Regions from separate parts of the Homo sapiens genome. Here region 2 is linked to region 1. The links come from fine-mapping of genetic effects on gene expression. Tissue or cell type: pancreatic islets. Region 1 holds a variant in brackets; the other region holds the start of a gene. All regions are shown on one strand. Distances are between the middles of the regions.

The links. PIP is the estimated chance that this variant, and not a neighbour inherited with it, causes the effect.
Region 2: IFIT5 starts here. The variant in region 1 is fine-mapped to the expression of IFIT5 in pancreatic islets (PISA, PIP 0.94).

What each region holds. Positions count from the first base shown.
Region 1 is chr10:89,874,512-89,882,621 of GRCh38, forward strand. The region is part of intron 1 of LINC01374 (long intergenic non-protein coding RNA 1374); the gene reads left to right. Among named protein-coding and RNA genes, the nearest start is that of LINC01374, 25 kb to the left of the region's middle. The variant G/A (reference allele first, on the strand shown) is at 5,001.
Region 2 is chr10:89,411,111-89,419,220 of GRCh38, forward strand. It overlaps IFIT5 (interferon induced protein with tetratricopeptide repeats 5), which reads left to right and starts at 3,458. Exons shown (of 2, transcript NM_012420.3): 1 at 3,458-3,693; 2 at 6,095-8,110. The coding sequence starts at 3,689. The coding sequence ends at 7,538. It also overlaps a transcript of LIPA not described here. RefSeq lists enhancers at 3,315-3,624, 4,235-4,334, 4,435-4,504.

The DNA.
Region 1 (8,110 bases):
CCACCAAAAAGCAAAGCAATTTTGAATTCCATATCAACAGGGATTGACAGAAGCTCATATGCCACATCAAGAACTTCATAATAAGTTCCAGAATCCTTGTTGTTTTGTGCCAATTAGGATAATTCATTCCTCATGGCAGCTGTAATTGCAGGTACCACAATGTTCCACTGTCATTTAACATGATTCATTTTTTAAATGTGCTTTACAGTGAAGTTAAGTGGAGCTATCATGTGACTACCACCTTTGCATCCTTTAAATTTTGATGATGGCTTCAATCTCTGAAGGTACTCCTACAATATAGTATTGATTTTGATTTGGTATTTTGTCTGGGGAGAGCAATTACATGAGCTTCTGTTTGGCTCTTCCTAGCATGGTGGCCCTTATTTTACAAAACGAAAAACCAATGTGAACTTTCTGTTAGGCACTGGGTATATCTAGTTCCAACTATACCCTGAGGTATTGGAGAAATAGCCACAGGATGGGTCTAGACTCTCTGTGAGGAGGATTGGGTCAGAAAGTCATATATCACCTGGCTTCCATATGTGCCTACTCTAATAAGCAGGTCAGTGTATTTCAGGTCCCCTTGTGTGACCCAGATCTTGCATCCCAAATCCTGAAAAGGTCTCATTTCCCTTCCTGCCCCCACCACCATTCATTTACTCTGGTCACAGACCCACTGAGAAAGGATTGGAGGGATTTTTAGTGTGTCTACTTGTGTTGGCATTCCAGGGTTCTTCAAGGAGGTTCAGCTTCTTTTTCAATCAATATGCTCTGGATCTATCAATAGGAAAATGGGTGTGGTAACTTGATTTTTTAGTGACAGCTGATACCAACTTTCTGCTGGCCAGTTTCTGATTTTTTTTTTTTCAGTTGACAGACAACACCATAAAAAGCTGTCTATCTATCTTGCCCCTGGGAACACCATGACCTACTGGCCATTAACACAGACCTTGAAGGTCAAGGTACTGGCTGCCACTCTGACCTTGCTCTTCATAGTGGTAATAATGTTCACTTTTCCTCTTACATTTAGGTACTGCCACTGGGACCCTACCATTTTATAGTCCTGTCATTCCTATTGACACTAAGAAACATGATTCTATGACACCGTTTCCTACAGTGAACTTTATAAAGGATAGTTGTCACTGACCTCACTGGAAGTGAGCCCTTCTCACCAGTGCATTCTTTTCAATACTTTAAAGGTGTTACTCTACAGTCTTCTTGCTTCCATAGTTTTTCACATGAGGTCTGTTGTCCGTCTTTGTGTTTCGGTACATCTTCTGTCTTTGTGCTCTGGCTGCTTTTAAGATTTTCTCTTTGTCACTGGTTTTCAGAAATTGTATTATATAATATTTTTTTTTCCCTTCATGCTTCCCATTATGGTACTCCTAATATATATGTTACACTGCTTTATAATGTCCCAGTAACTGATGATCTATTTATTTCATTTTTTTCTATCTATGCTTTATTTTAAATTGTTTTCATTGCTCCGTTTTCTTTTTTAATAGCAGAATATATTTATATATGACTTCTTTATAGGGAAAGGCTTCATAAACAAGTAACAAAAAATCTCACAAAAGAGAGGAGAAATATATTGTATCACCTTTAACTATATAACTACTATACAGGATAATACACCATAAACATAGTTAAAAGATGAGCCACAGACTCAGAGAAGATATTTACAACAAAACAAAAAACTGGTATCCAGAATCTCTTTACTATATTTGTGAGATAGTATATACTTGTAATAATTTGCTAATATTGTTTTTTATGATTGTATAAAGTCTGTATAAAACAGAAATTCAAAGAAAAGTGGGTGATGTGAATTCACAGAAGAGGAAATCAGAATGGCCAATAAACATTAAAAGAGGCTTAGTCTCACTAGTAATCAGGGGAATGCAAATTAAAATCAGATACCTGATTTTTAGCCAATCAGATCAGAAATAACAAAAAGTTTAATCAGGTACTGGGGGTAACTTCTGTTTCATAAAATATAAACTTTTGGCCTGGCACATGGCTCATTCCTGTAATCCCAGAGCTCTGGGGGGCCAAGGTGGGAGGATCTCTTGAGGCCAGGAGATCTTGAGGCCAGTCTGGGCAAAATAGTGAGACCCCATCCCTACCAAAAAAAATTGAGAAAAGATAAACTTGTGATTGTATTAACTACACATGCATTCACTAACTAGACTATAAGTAATTTTCAATAAGCAAGCAATATCTTATCTATTCCACAAACCTAGTGCAATTCTGGGTGCACAGCAGACCACCAGTAATTATTTGTTGATTTAGGGGTTAATCCACAACAGCTGAAAAGGCATGTCAAATATTAGAAAACCTCAAAAAACTTTTAAAGATAAAAGAGATTACCACCTTTCAGATTATTATTGTGCCAATAATAATAGACCACCATCCTCAAAGAGGGAATTGGCATCTCAGTTATTAAGCACTGTAGCTTTACAGCACCAAAAGATGGCTGTCCCTTTCCTGCTGTCTGAATCCATTCACTGGCTGCATCTTTGTGTTATCTACAGGTGTTACAGCCTCAAAAGGGCTCTGTGGGCCAAAGCAACTACTTATCATTCAAACAAACTTAGCCTATTATTTTTAAATAAAGGGCTTCTCAGAGATTTTAATGTGTTAAGGTACATTCTCTGAGAAGATGATATAATATGCAATGATTTTCAAAATTATTTGAACCAAAAAACCTATTTTAATTTTCAGAGTCTCTGGCAGGACTTGTATTCCACACTTTGGGAAATCCTATTCTAGGAGAGCTTTGTATTTATTGAATTAAGGGACTAGTTTCTGTGCATTATTAAACAAATAAAAATTGTGGCAGTAGTTTCAAGTAAATACAAATTGGTTCAATTATTTTGGAAAACTTTTTAATGTTATTCATTAAGGCTGGACAGCAATCCTCTAGGTAGAACACTCAACATTAATGTGTATGTACATAAGGACATCAAGAAATGTACAAAGGAGGCCCAAATCCTTCTGATTGAGGCCCCACTTCAAAAAATATACAAGAAAGTTCATTACAATATACTTTTCATGACAGCTCCAACGTGGAAACAACCCAAATATCCACCCATGGTAGAAAGAAAAATTTATGTAACAGTACATTATTCAAAGTGAACAAACTACCACCTCATAGGACATCATGGAGAATCTCTCAAATCTCTCAACTATAGTGTTGAATGAAAGAATCCAGGCACAGAAAGAATAGACACTATGATTCCATTTACACAAAGTTGAAAAGTAGGAAAACTAATCTATGTTGTTGGAATTTAGGACATTAACTTCTAGAGAGAGGGAGGAAGTATAATTGGGAGGGGTTAAAGGGACTTTCCGGGTGCTGGCCATGTCCTGTTTCTTGACTAAGATGGTGGCTATAGGTGTGTATAGGTGTATTCACTCTGATAATTAATCTCAGAACTTACGCACTTTCCTTTTCATATGTCAGACTTCATTAAAAACATAAAAAACTCAGCAGTCCAGTCAGTCATTCCATGTATTTGTTATTGTGTGCACTCAGTATTCACTGGTGTCATGGTGATCCCAGGGTCCAGCTGTGGCAAGAGCAACAGTAACTGCTCCCAGTCACCAGCTCATGTAATCTTCATGAGAGCTCCACGAATTAAGCTGCTTTTAAAACACCTACTATCCCCTTTCAATAGGTGAGAAAACTAAGGCTTAGGGAAAATCAATTTTCACAAAGTCACAGACTCATAAATGGTGGTGACAAACTCAAATTGAACTCCAAATCTCACGCTCTTAGCTGCTAGATCCTAGGGAGTGTGCTGCCTGCCTGCTATGCTTCCTATGCTAAGGAGGAAGCCCTTCTGACCAGAGCTGCTTTGACTGGGTTTTAATTTCTCTGTTTTTGATTTTTAATTTTGGTGGGTACATAGTAGTATATATACCTATGGGGTACATGGAACATACTGATACAGGCATGTAATGTGAAACAATCACATCAAGGTAAATGGATCATCTATCATCCCAAGCATTCATCTCTTGCATTATGAACAATCCAATTATACACTTTCAGTTATTCTAAAATACAAGATTAAGTTATTATTGACTATAGTCACCCTGCTGTGCTATTAAACACTAGGTCTTACTCAGTCCTTCTATTTTTGCATACCCATTAACTATCCCCACTTAACCACTCCCCTCCCTGACTACTCTTCTCAGCCTCTGGTAATCACCCTTCTACTCTCTATCTCTATGAGTTCAATTGTTTTAAACTTTAGCTACCACAAGTAAGTGAGAACATGTGAAGTTTCTTTCCATGCCTGGCTTATTTCACTCAACATAATGATCTCCAGTTTCATCCATGTTGTTGCAAATGACAGGATCTCATTTTTTTCATGGCTGAATAGTACTCCATCATGGATATGTACCACATTTACTTTATCTGCTTATATTTTGATGAACATTTAGGTTGCTTCCAAACTTTTTTATTGTGAATAGTGCTGCAATAAATGTGGGTATGCAGATATCTCTTCCATATACTGATTTCCCTTCTTCTGGGTAAATACCTAATGCTAAATGACAAGTTAATGGGTGCAGCACACCAGCATGGCACATGTATACATATGTAACTAACCTGCACATTGTGCACATGTACCCTAAAATTTAAAGTATAATAATAATAAAAAAAATAAAATTCATGTTGAAACTTGAAAAAAAAATACCTAGTAGTAATGTTACTGGATCAAATGGTATCTCTATTTTAGTTTTCTGAGATAAAAACCACAAGAACCAAACTGTTCTTGTGGTTGTACTAGTTTGCATTCCCACCAACTCCTGTGTACAAGGGTTTCCTCTTCTCCACATTCTTGCAAGCATTTATTATTGCCTGTCTTTTGGATAAAAGCCATTTTAACTGGAGTGAGATAATATCTCATTGTAGTTTTGATTTGCAGTACTCTGATGATCAGTGATGTTGAACATCTTTTTATGTGCCTGTTTGGCATTTGTATGTCATCTTCTGA[G/A]AAATGTCTATTAAGATCTTTTGCCCATTTTTTAATTGGATTATTAGATTTTTTTTTCTATAGAGTTGTTTGAGCTTCTTATATATTCTGTTTCTTAATCCCTTGTCAGGTGGAGGGTTTGGAAATATTTTCTCCCACTTGGTGGTTTGTCTTTTCACTGCATTGATTGTTTCCTTTGCTGTGCAGAAGCTTTTTAACTCTAGTTGATCCCATTTGTCCACTTTTGCTTTGGTTGACTGTATTCGTGTGGTATCGCTCAAGAAATTTTTGCTCAAACCAATGTTCTGCAGATTTTCCTCAACGTTTTCTTGTAGTAGTTTCATAGTTTGAGGTCTTAGACTTAAGCCTTTTATCTGTTTGATTTTTTAAAATTAATATATGGTGAGAAATAGGGGTCTAGTTTCAGTCTTCCACATATGGGTATCTAGTTTTCTCAGCATAGTTTGTTGAAGAGATTGTCCTTCCCCAGTGTATGTTCTGGCACCTTTGTCAAAAATGAGTTCACTGTAGAGGTAAAGATATGTTTCTGGGTTCTGTATTCTGTTATATTGGTCTATATGCCTGTTTTTTTTTTTCTTTTGCCAGTGCCATGCCATTTTGGTTACTGTAGTTCAGTACTATAATTTAAAGTCAGGTAATATGATTCAAGTTTTGTTCTTTTTGCTTAGGATAGCTTTGGCTATTCTGGGTCTTTTGTGGTCCATATGAATTGTAGGATTGTTTTTTCTACTTCTATGAAGAATGTCATTAGTATTTTGATAGGGATTATATTGAATCTGTAGATTGCTTTGGGTAGTATGAAAGTTTTAACAATATTGATTCTTCCAATCCATGAACAGGTAATATTTTTCCATTTTTTTGGTGTCCTTTTCAAATTCTTTCATTAGTGTTTTATAGTTTTCATTGTGGAGATCTTTCACTTCTTTGGTTAATAACTGGATATTGAATTTTATTTGTAACTGTTATAAATGGGATTACTTTCTTGATTTCTTTTTCATATTGTTTGCTGTGGCATATGTAAATGCTACTGGTTTTTGTATATTGATTTTATATCCTGCAACTTTACTGACTTTACTGACTATTAGAACTATTACAGTTCTAATAGTTTTTTTTTGTGTGGAGTTTTTAGGTTTTTCCAAAGATAAGATCATATCATAAAAACAATGTTAATTTGACTTCTTCCTTTCTGATTTTGATGCCCTTTATTTCTTTCTCTTGTTTGATTGCTCTAGCTAAGACTTCCAGTAATATGTAGAATATCAGTGGTGAAAGTGGGCAACCTTGTATACCATATCTTAGAGGAAAGGCTTTCAGTTTATCCTCATTCTGTATAATACTAGATGTGGATCTGTTGTATGTGACTTTTATTATGTTTAGGTGTGTTCCTTCTATACTCAGTGTTTTGAGAGTTTTTATCTTGCGGGATGACAAATTTTATTAAATACTTTTCCAGCGTCAGTTGGAATGATCATATGGTTTTTGTCCTTCATTCTGTGATGTGATGTATCACGTTTATGGCTTTGTGTATGTTGAACCATCCTTGCATCCCTGGGATAAATTCCACTTGGTCCTAATAGGTTATCTTTTAAATGTGTTGTTGAATTTGGTTTGCTGGCATTTTGTTGAGGATTTTTGCATAGGGATATTGGCCTTTACTTTTCTTTTTCGGATATGACTCTGGTTTTGGTATTAAGGTAATACTGGTGTCATACAATGAGTTTAGAAGTATTCACTCTTCCTCTATTTTTTGGAATAGTTTGAGTAGAATTGGTATTAGTTCTTTTTCTTTACTGGGAGACTACTTATTACAGCTTTGATCTCATTACTTGTTATTGGTCTATTCAGGTTTTGGATTCCTTTATGGTTCAATCTTGGTAGGTTTCATGTGTGTAGGAATTGATTCATTTTTTTTCAAGGTTTTCCAATTTATTGTCATATAATTGCTTATAGTAGCCTCTGGTGATCCTTTGAATTTCTGTGGTATTGGTTGTAATGTCTCCTTTTTCATCTCTGATTTTATTTATTTCAATGTCCTCTCTTTTTTCTTAGCTATGCTAGCCAAAGGTCTGTCAATTTTTCTTTTCAAAAAAGCAACTTCTTGTTTTGTTGATATTTTGTATGGTTTTCTTTATTTATTTCTACTCAGATCTTTATTATTTCTTTTCATCCACTAACTTTGCATTTGGCTTGCTCTTCTGGTTCTTTCAGATGCATCATTAGGTTGTTTATGTAAAATTTTTCTTCCTTTTTGATGTAGGCACTTATAGCTCATTACTGCCTTCACTGTATTCCATAGGTTTTGGTATGTTGTTTTTCCATTATCACTTGTTTCAAGAAATTTTAAAATTTCCTTCTTAATCTCTTCACTAGATTACTGGTCATTCAGGAGCATATTGTTTAATTTCCATGTGTTTGTATAGTTTCCAAAATTCCTCTTATTATTGGTTTCTAGTTTTATTGTACTGTGGTGAAAGAGGATTCTTGATATGATTTCAATTTTTGAATGTTTTAAGACTTGTTTTGTGGCCTAAAATAGGGTCTCTCCTTGATAATGATCCATGTCCTGAGGAGAATGTGTATTCTGCAGCCATTGGATGAAATGTTCTGTAAATATCTATTAGGTCCATTTGGTCTATAGTACATAATGAGTCCAATATTTCTTTGTCGATTTTCTCTCTGGATGATCTGTCCAACGCCAAAGGTGGGGTGTTGAAGTCTACAGTTATTTTTGTACTGAGGTCTCTCTCTCTCTTTAGCTCTAATAATATTTCCTTTATATGTCTGGGTGCTCCTTTGTTGGGTGCATATATATTTAAAATTGTTATGTCCTCTTGCTGAATTGACTGCTTTTTCACTATATGACCTTCTTTGTCTGTTTTTATAGTTTTTCTATTGAAAGCTATGTAGTCTAATATAATATAAGTATAATTACTCTTGTTTTTTTTTTTTGTTTGTTTGTTTTCCATTTGCATGGACTATCTTTTCCCATCCCCCTTAATTTCAGTCCATGTGTGTCTTTACAGGTGAAGTCTGTTTTTTGTAGGCAAAAAGTCACTGGGTTCATTGGGTCTTTTTTTTCTTTTTGATTCATTCAGCCAGTCTGTGTCTTT
Region 2 (8,110 bases), 460 kb before region 1:
AGCCTGAAAGCACTGAGGCCACTGACAACCAGTAGCCTTCCTATCAAAAATCCTTACCCAGCAGGTTTCCTAACAGGGGATCTAAATCTTAATTAATTCCCATACAAAGGTCTGACCAGATCTAGGAGGAACTCCCTTCAGGACAGGACGGATAGATGGTTCCTCCTGGGCAATTAAGGAAAAAAAAAACACAATGGGTATTCAGTAAATAATAAGGAAACTCTTGTAGAAGCAGTGTTAGGAAAATTGCCTAATAATTGGTCTGCTCAAATGTGTCAGCTGTTTGCACTCAGCCAAACCTTAAAATACTTACAGAATCAGGAAGGAGCCATCTATACCAATTCTAAGTTAATATGGACTGAACGAGGTCTTACTAATAGCAAAGAATAATTGAAATCCCAAACTTACAAGGTTTTCAACTAACGTAAAGTTTGCTAAAAGTTAACAGTGTAACATGCATTATCCTACTACCATACACTCTCAAAGGATTTCTCAGACAGTTTGCATGAAATAATGAAATCTATCCTTACTCTACAATCCCAAACAGACTCTTTGGCAGCAGCGACTCTCCAAAATCGCCAAGGCCTAGACCTCCTCACTGCTGAGAAAGGAGGACTGTGCAGCTTCTTAGGGGAAGAGTGTTGTTTTTACACTAACCAGTCAGGGATAGCACGAGATGCCACCCGGTGTTTACAGGAAAAGGCTTCTGAAATCAGACAACACCTTTCAAACTCTTATACCAACCTCTGGAGTTGGGCAACATGGCTTCTCCCCTTTCTAGGTCCTGTGGCAGCCATCTTGCTGTTACTTGTCTTTGGGCCCTGTGTTTTTAACCTTCTTGTCAAATTTGTTTCCTCTAGAATTGAGGCCCTCAAGCTACAGATGGTCTTACAAATGGAACCCCAAATGAGTTCAACTAACAACTTCTACCGAGGACCCCTGGACTGACCTGCTGGCCCTTCCACTGGCCTAAAGAGTTCCCCTCTGGAGGACACTACACCTACAGGGCCCCTTCTTCGCCCCTATCCAGCAGAAAGTAGCTAGAGCAGTCATCAGCCAAATTCCCATCAGCAATTGGGGTGTCCTGTTTAGAGGGGGGATTGAGAGGTGAAGCTGGCTGGGCTTCTGGGTCAGGTGGGGACTCAGAGAACTTTTCTGTCTAGCTAAAGGATTGTAAACGCACCAATCAGCACTCTGTGTGTAGCTAAAAGTTTGTAAACGCACCAATCAGCACTCTGTCAAAATGGACCAATCAGCACTCTGTAAAATGGACCAATCAGCACTCTGTAAAATGGACCAATCAGCACTTTGTAAAGTGGACCAATCAGCTCTCTGTAAAATGGACCAATCAGCAGGATATGGGTGGAGCCAAATAAGGGAATAAAAGCAGGCCACCCCAGCCAGCAGCGGCAACCTGCTCGGGTCTGCTTCCACGTCGTGGAAGTTTTGTTCTTTCGCTCTTCGCAACGAATCTTGCTGCTGCTCACTCTTTGGGTCCACACTGCCTTTATGAGCTGTAACACTCACCACAAAGGTCTACGGCTTTACTCCTGAAGTCAGTGAAACCACGAACCCACCGGGAGGAACGAACAACTCCGGACGCGCCACCTTTAAGATCTGTAACACTCACTGTGAAGGTCTGCAGCTGCACTCCTGAAGTCAGCAAGACCACGAACTCACCAGAAGGAAGAAACTCCAGACACATCTGAACATCGAAAGGAACAAACTCCAGACACGCCATCTTTAACAACTGTAGCACTCACAGCGAGAGTCCGCAGCTTCATTCTTGAAGTCACCAAGACCAAAAACCTACTGGAAGGAACCAATTCCGGACACACCATCACCTACGTATTAAGCTCAGCATCACTTAGCTATACTTCTTGATGCTCTCCCTCCCACCACCCCCAACTCCAACAAGCCCCAGTGTGTGTTGTTCCCCACTGTGTCCGTGTGTTCTCATCATTTAGCTCCCACTTACAAGTGAGAACATGCAGTGTTTGGTTTCTGTTCCTGCATTAGTTTGCTGAGGATAATCACTGGAAATACTTGCTCTGTATTTAGAGTTCATAAAATTTGCAACTTATAAAAAGCAGATTCGTATACCTAAGTTATTCCAAATGTAAGTTTTCTATTAACTTATCAGTTTTTAAATTTATATTAAATTAAAAATCAGGTTCTTAATAGCCACAGGTGACCAGCAGTTTCTGTATAAGACAGTACAACTGTTAGAAGTGATTGCTTTAAATGAGGCACTCGCTTCAGGCACTAAGTTTTGAGGGGTGGGGTGCCAGAAGCTCAGTGATCAAGGTAGACAATATTTCAATGCAATATGTTTTTAAAAATTCAAAATCAGGCCAAGCATAGTGGCTCATGCCTGTAATCCCAGCATTTTGGGAGGCCACGATGGGCGGAACAATATTTAAGGTTTAGAAAAATATTTGTGCCCAGGTGTTGGAGACCAGCCTGGGCAACATGGCAAAACCCCGCCTCTACAAAAAATAAATTAATTAGCCCGACATAGTGGTGCACGCATATAGTCCCAGCCACTCAGGAGGCTGAGGTGGGAGGATCGCTTGAGCCATGAAGGTTGAGGCTGCAGTGAGCTGTCATCTCACCACTGCACTCCAACCTGAGTGACAGAGTGAGACCCTGTCTCAAAAAAAAAAAAAAAACCAAAATCAATGCAAAAGATGAATTATGGACAGGATATTGAGGTTTTGAATACAGACATTAACTCAATAAGGGTAAGGCCCGTGTCTGTTTTCTTTATTGTTATATTGACAGTACTTTGAACAAAGTCTGGCTCTTACAGTTGTTTGTCAATATTTGCTGAATGAATTCAAAGGGGACAAAATGTTTAAGGTATGGGTGTTTGACATTTTCTGCCTAGATCCCCAATACCACTCTTGTCTTTATTGGGTCCTTATTACAAAGCACCATTGGCGAAGGTATGGAAGAGAAGCAGTCTCCTACAATTGTGGGTAAGAGTGGATTTTTAAAGCTATTTGGCAATATCCGTCAAAACTTAAAATGTATATAGATTTTAGCTCCAAATTTCTCAGTTTACACCCAACAGAAATAACAGCATAGATGTATAGCATTGCAGTGTTGCTTGTTGAATCAAAAGACTGGAGTGGAAGCAGGGACTTAAGTTTCCGCCTGTAATCCCAGCACCTTGGGAGGCAGAGGCGGGCGCATCCCTTGAGATCACGACTGGGTGACACAGTGAGACGCTATCTCAAACAAACAAACAAACAAACAAACAGTTACACGGGCAGCATGCGAACTCAGCGTACTCAGGGAGGCAGATAAAAGCCGAGACCAAAGTGAAGGAGCCCAGCTGCAAATTCAACTCCGAAAGACCCTGGACTCCGCAAACGTCTGGCCGCGGCTCTTGAGCTCTTCTATTAAGTTTCGGTTTCTGAAGCTTACGTTTAGTTTCGATTTCTTAAGTTTCAGTTTCTGAGCGCTCGGCATCTGATTCAATCTCCAGTTTCCTGTTCTTGCTGGGGCTGGGGTCTCTCCTTTAACAAAGACACGCCGCGCGGCCGAGTCCAGGGGCTGCAGAGGCCTGGCGCGCGCACGCGCACGCGCACGCCCACCGCGCGGCTTCCCGCGGTCCCCGGTGCTGAGGAGAGAGCGATCCGAGGGACTGCGCCGCCCGGACGGCCTGCAGAGCGCTGCCATCATGAGGTAAGGGTTTTCCTTTGCCTCTCCTCCCAAGCCCTGCGTCGGCCTTGGTTTCAAACCGGGCTGCTTTTATTCATTTCCAGCGCAGTTCTGCGGCCTTTTCAGGGGCCGAGCCCCTCGCGCCCAGCAACCGGGCATCTGCGTTGGGGACCCTCCCCGGGCGCTCTGTCCCGGCGCGCGGCGTCTGAAGTCGGGCCTGCCGGGGAGGGTGGCCGAGTGGACGCTTCTCGGGAGTCCGGCCCCTCCCCAGCGCCTAAGAAGGCCGGTCAGGGAGGAGGAACAGGAGATGCTCCCCGGGAGCCTGTCCCATCCCTGGCGTCTGCGGTCGGGACTGTCAGGGTATGTGCCGGGCGACGCTCCCCCGGAAGGCCTGTCCACCCATCGCGACCCGACGGCTCTTCTCGGCAGCGGCGACGGTGACCGTGCTGGGTCCGCGGCCGCCGCCTCCGGGAAACTGGTCAGCGCCTGCAGAGCCCCCAGGCGCTGTTCCGGGGGCAGCTGCTACGTGCCACGGGTCTCCTTAGGCCTGTCGCGTGCCTCTCTTTCCAGCTGCCATTCCCTCGGTGTGGCATACGCGGTTTCGCCGCAGCCCTGCAGGCGTCAGGTTCGCCTGCCACTGCCAGTTTGCGTTTCTGATTTCTGGGTCTGAGTTCTTCCCTTCCCAGGAGCTACCTCTGTACCAAGCACAGATTGTTATCGTCCCACCCAATCCGCTGTTTTATGAGGATTTCTTTATCTGTTTCCTTTACTGATTTAGTATGATGGCGTCCTTTTCTTGATCATTTTGTATCCCCAGGGGCTAGCACCCCGCCCTGCACGTGGTTAGTGAACCTTCCGCATTTAATGAGTTGAGGAATGAGATGTTAAGGTCTTGGGCTCTAAAAGCAGATAGTCCCTTGTTCTAAATCCGGACTGAACTCCTACTAGTTGAGTGATCCCAAAGTTTCTCAAACTCTGTGAGTCTGTTCCTTATTTGTAAAAATTAATGGTGTCCATCTCTTGGGACTGTGGAAAAGGACAGTAATAAATCCTATCAGTTGACTGCTTAGCACATAATACTTGCACAATAAATGTTAATTATTCCCATTATAAGTTTAAAAAAAAAGTTTAAGTGCCACCCACACATCTAACTTTATTTTTGAGACGGAGTCTCGCCCTGTCACCCAGGCTGTAGTGTAATGGCTCCATCTCGGCTCACTGCAACCTCCGCCTCCCGGGTTCAAGCCATTCCCCTGCCTCAGCTTCCCGTGTAGCTGGGATTACAGGCGTGTGCCACCACGCCTGGCTAATTTTTTGTATCTTTAGTAGAGACGCGGGTTTCACCATGTTGACCGGGCTGGTCTCGAATTCCTGACCTCGTGGTCCACCCGCCTCAGCCTCCCAAAGTGCTGGGATTACAGGCGTGAGCCACAACGCCTGGCCACATCTAACATTTGTAAGAAAGGAGAGTGCTATCAGGAAGGGGCTTGACAACAACAACAACAACAAAACAACAACAACAACAAAAAACAGAAAAAGACGGTGGCGTGCACCGTATATATGCAGGATGGGGAGGAAAAGGGCTCAGCCCCATTGGGGACTGTCTCCCAAGGACAATGAAAGTCTGCTTCTTCCTAGCAGAAGAACAGAATTACCGAAAGATACGTGTTACCTCTTCTGATGCAATAGCTTCTCTCTTATTAGCTTCCCAAAGACAAAGTTACAAAATTAAGTAGACAAAGTTTAAACAATAAAAATTCTCATGGTGTCCAGTTGTGCATAAATTCCAGAGCCTGGACAAACCACGTCAGTACCTGATTGAATGTCCCTTTGAGATCTTACAACCAAATCCATAATACCTGAGCAGCCCTCCTCATCCTCCTTGGGCTGGGCTGGTAGAGACCTTCAAAACAGGTGTTTGTTTTAGGCAGGGGGCTGGTAAAGCCATGTTGTTGTGGATTTAAGCAGGCTGTAAGGACATGGCATGTCTTGCCCATATTTTTGGTACAATTACACTAGAGAAAGGAACAATTACCAAGGAGCAATTTTACCAGGTTTCCTAGTCAGGATCAGTACTCATAATACAAAAATGGAATTTTCATATTAATTATTGAATATGTATATATTCATTCCTAATTTTCAATGGTTTAGTGATTGCCAAAAGGAAATAGATACATGTAATACAGAAAGCTCTGTCATCTCTCCAGAACTGTTTTTGCAATAAATAGTGAGAATTTAAATGAAATATTTCTAGGACATAACTGTATATAGAAGAAACTCTAGTATAAAGTTATGGGAAACTTATGTTTTAACTGTAAGATCAAATAGGGATAAAATTAGTTGTTATGCAAAGAACAATATTTAAGGTTTAGAAAATTATTTCTTGTATTTCTTCAAAAATTAAAAAGTATTTTATCTTTGACAGTGAAATTCGTAAGGACACCTTGAAGGCCATTCTGTTGGAGTTAGAATGTCATTTTACATGGAATTTACTTAAGGAAGACATTGATCTGTTTGAGGTAGAAGATACAATTGGGCAACAGCTTGAATTTCTTACCACAAAATCTAGACTTGCTCTTTATAACCTATTGGCCTATGTGAAACACCTAAAAGGCCAAAATAAAGACGCCCTTGAGTGCTTGGAACAAGCAGAAGAAATAATCCAGCAAGAACACTCAGACAAAGAAGAAGTACGAAGCCTGGTCACTTGGGGAAACTATGCCTGGGTGTATTATCACATGGACCAGCTTGAAGAAGCTCAGAAGTATACAGGTAAGATAGGGAATGTCTGTAAGAAATTGTCCAGTCCTTCTAACTACAAGTTGGAGTGTCCTGAGACTGACTGTGAGAAAGGCTGGGCACTCTTGAAATTTGGAGGAAAGTATTATCAAAAGGCTAAAGCGGCTTTTGAGAAGGCTCTGGAAGTGGAGCCTGACAATCCAGAATTTAACATCGGCTATGCTATCACAGTGTATCGGCTGGATGATTCTGATAGAGAAGGGTCTGTAAAGAGCTTTTCTCTGGGGCCTTTGAGAAAGGCTGTTACCCTGAACCCAGATAACAGCTATATTAAGGTTTTTCTGGCACTGAAGCTTCAAGATGTACATGCAGAAGCTGAAGGGGAAAAGTATATTGAAGAAATCCTGGACCAAATATCATCCCAGCCTTACGTCCTTCGTTATGCAGCCAAGTTCTATAGGAGAAAAAATTCCTGGAACAAAGCTCTCGAACTTTTAAAAAAGGCCTTGGAGGTGACACCAACTTCTTCTTTCCTGCATCACCAGATGGGACTTTGCTACAGGGCACAAATGATCCAAATCAAGAAGGCCACACACAACAGACCTAAAGGAAAGGATAAACTAAAGGTTGATGAGCTGATTTCATCTGCTATATTTCATTTCAAAGCAGCCATGGAACGAGACTCTATGTTTGCATTTGCCTACACAGACCTGGCCAACATGTACGCTGAAGGAGGCCAGTATAGCAATGCTGAGGACATTTTCCGGAAAGCTCTTCGTCTGGAGAACATAACCGATGATCACAAACATCAGATCCATTACCACTATGGCCGCTTTCAGGAATTTCACCGTAAATCAGAAAATACTGCCATCCATCATTATTTAGAAGCCTTAAAGGTCAAAGACAGATCACCCCTTCGCACCAAACTGACAAGTGCTCTGAAGAAATTGTCTACCAAGAGACTTTGTCACAATGCTTTAGATGTGCAGAGTTTAAGTGCCCTAGGGTTTGTTTACAAGCTGGAAGGAGAAAAGAGGCAAGCTGCTGAGTACTATGAGAAGGCACAAAAGATAGATCCAGAAAATGCAGAATTCCTGACTGCTCTCTGTGAGCTCCGACTTTCCATTTAAATACATACTCTAGGAAATTAGCTCTAAGTTTTTCCCTTCATTTTGGGTTCTCCTGTTTGTTTTTTTTTTATTATTTTAATCCCTTGTTTATTATAGAGCTAATATTTATTGAATAGTTATTGTGTACCAAGCATTGTGCTAAATACTTTATATGCATTATGATGAATCTTGTGCGGTTTTCTTTCTTTTTTTCTTTTTAATTAAAATACTATAATCCATTGAGAAATAGCAATATTCTAGCTATTGTAACTTCTAAAAATGGTATGGCCATTAGATCTGTGCTTTTTATCTCTGCTCTTTGAATTTCTCATATTATATAGTAAATATATTCCTACGTAAACCTTTGATACCTAGATCAGGAATACTCTTCCAGGAGTACAAAATTACATTATTGATAGTTAAGCTCTTAATTGTGTAGCTTGCAAAAGACAGCACTTTTTAGTTACAGATGTTTTGACTTTGATGAGGATATTTAGCTATCAATCTAATAGTCACCTAAAATATCTTTTTTGTTGGAAAAAAGTTTATAATAAAAAAGTTTGTCATCTCTAGTGACTTCAATAAAGAAAAAA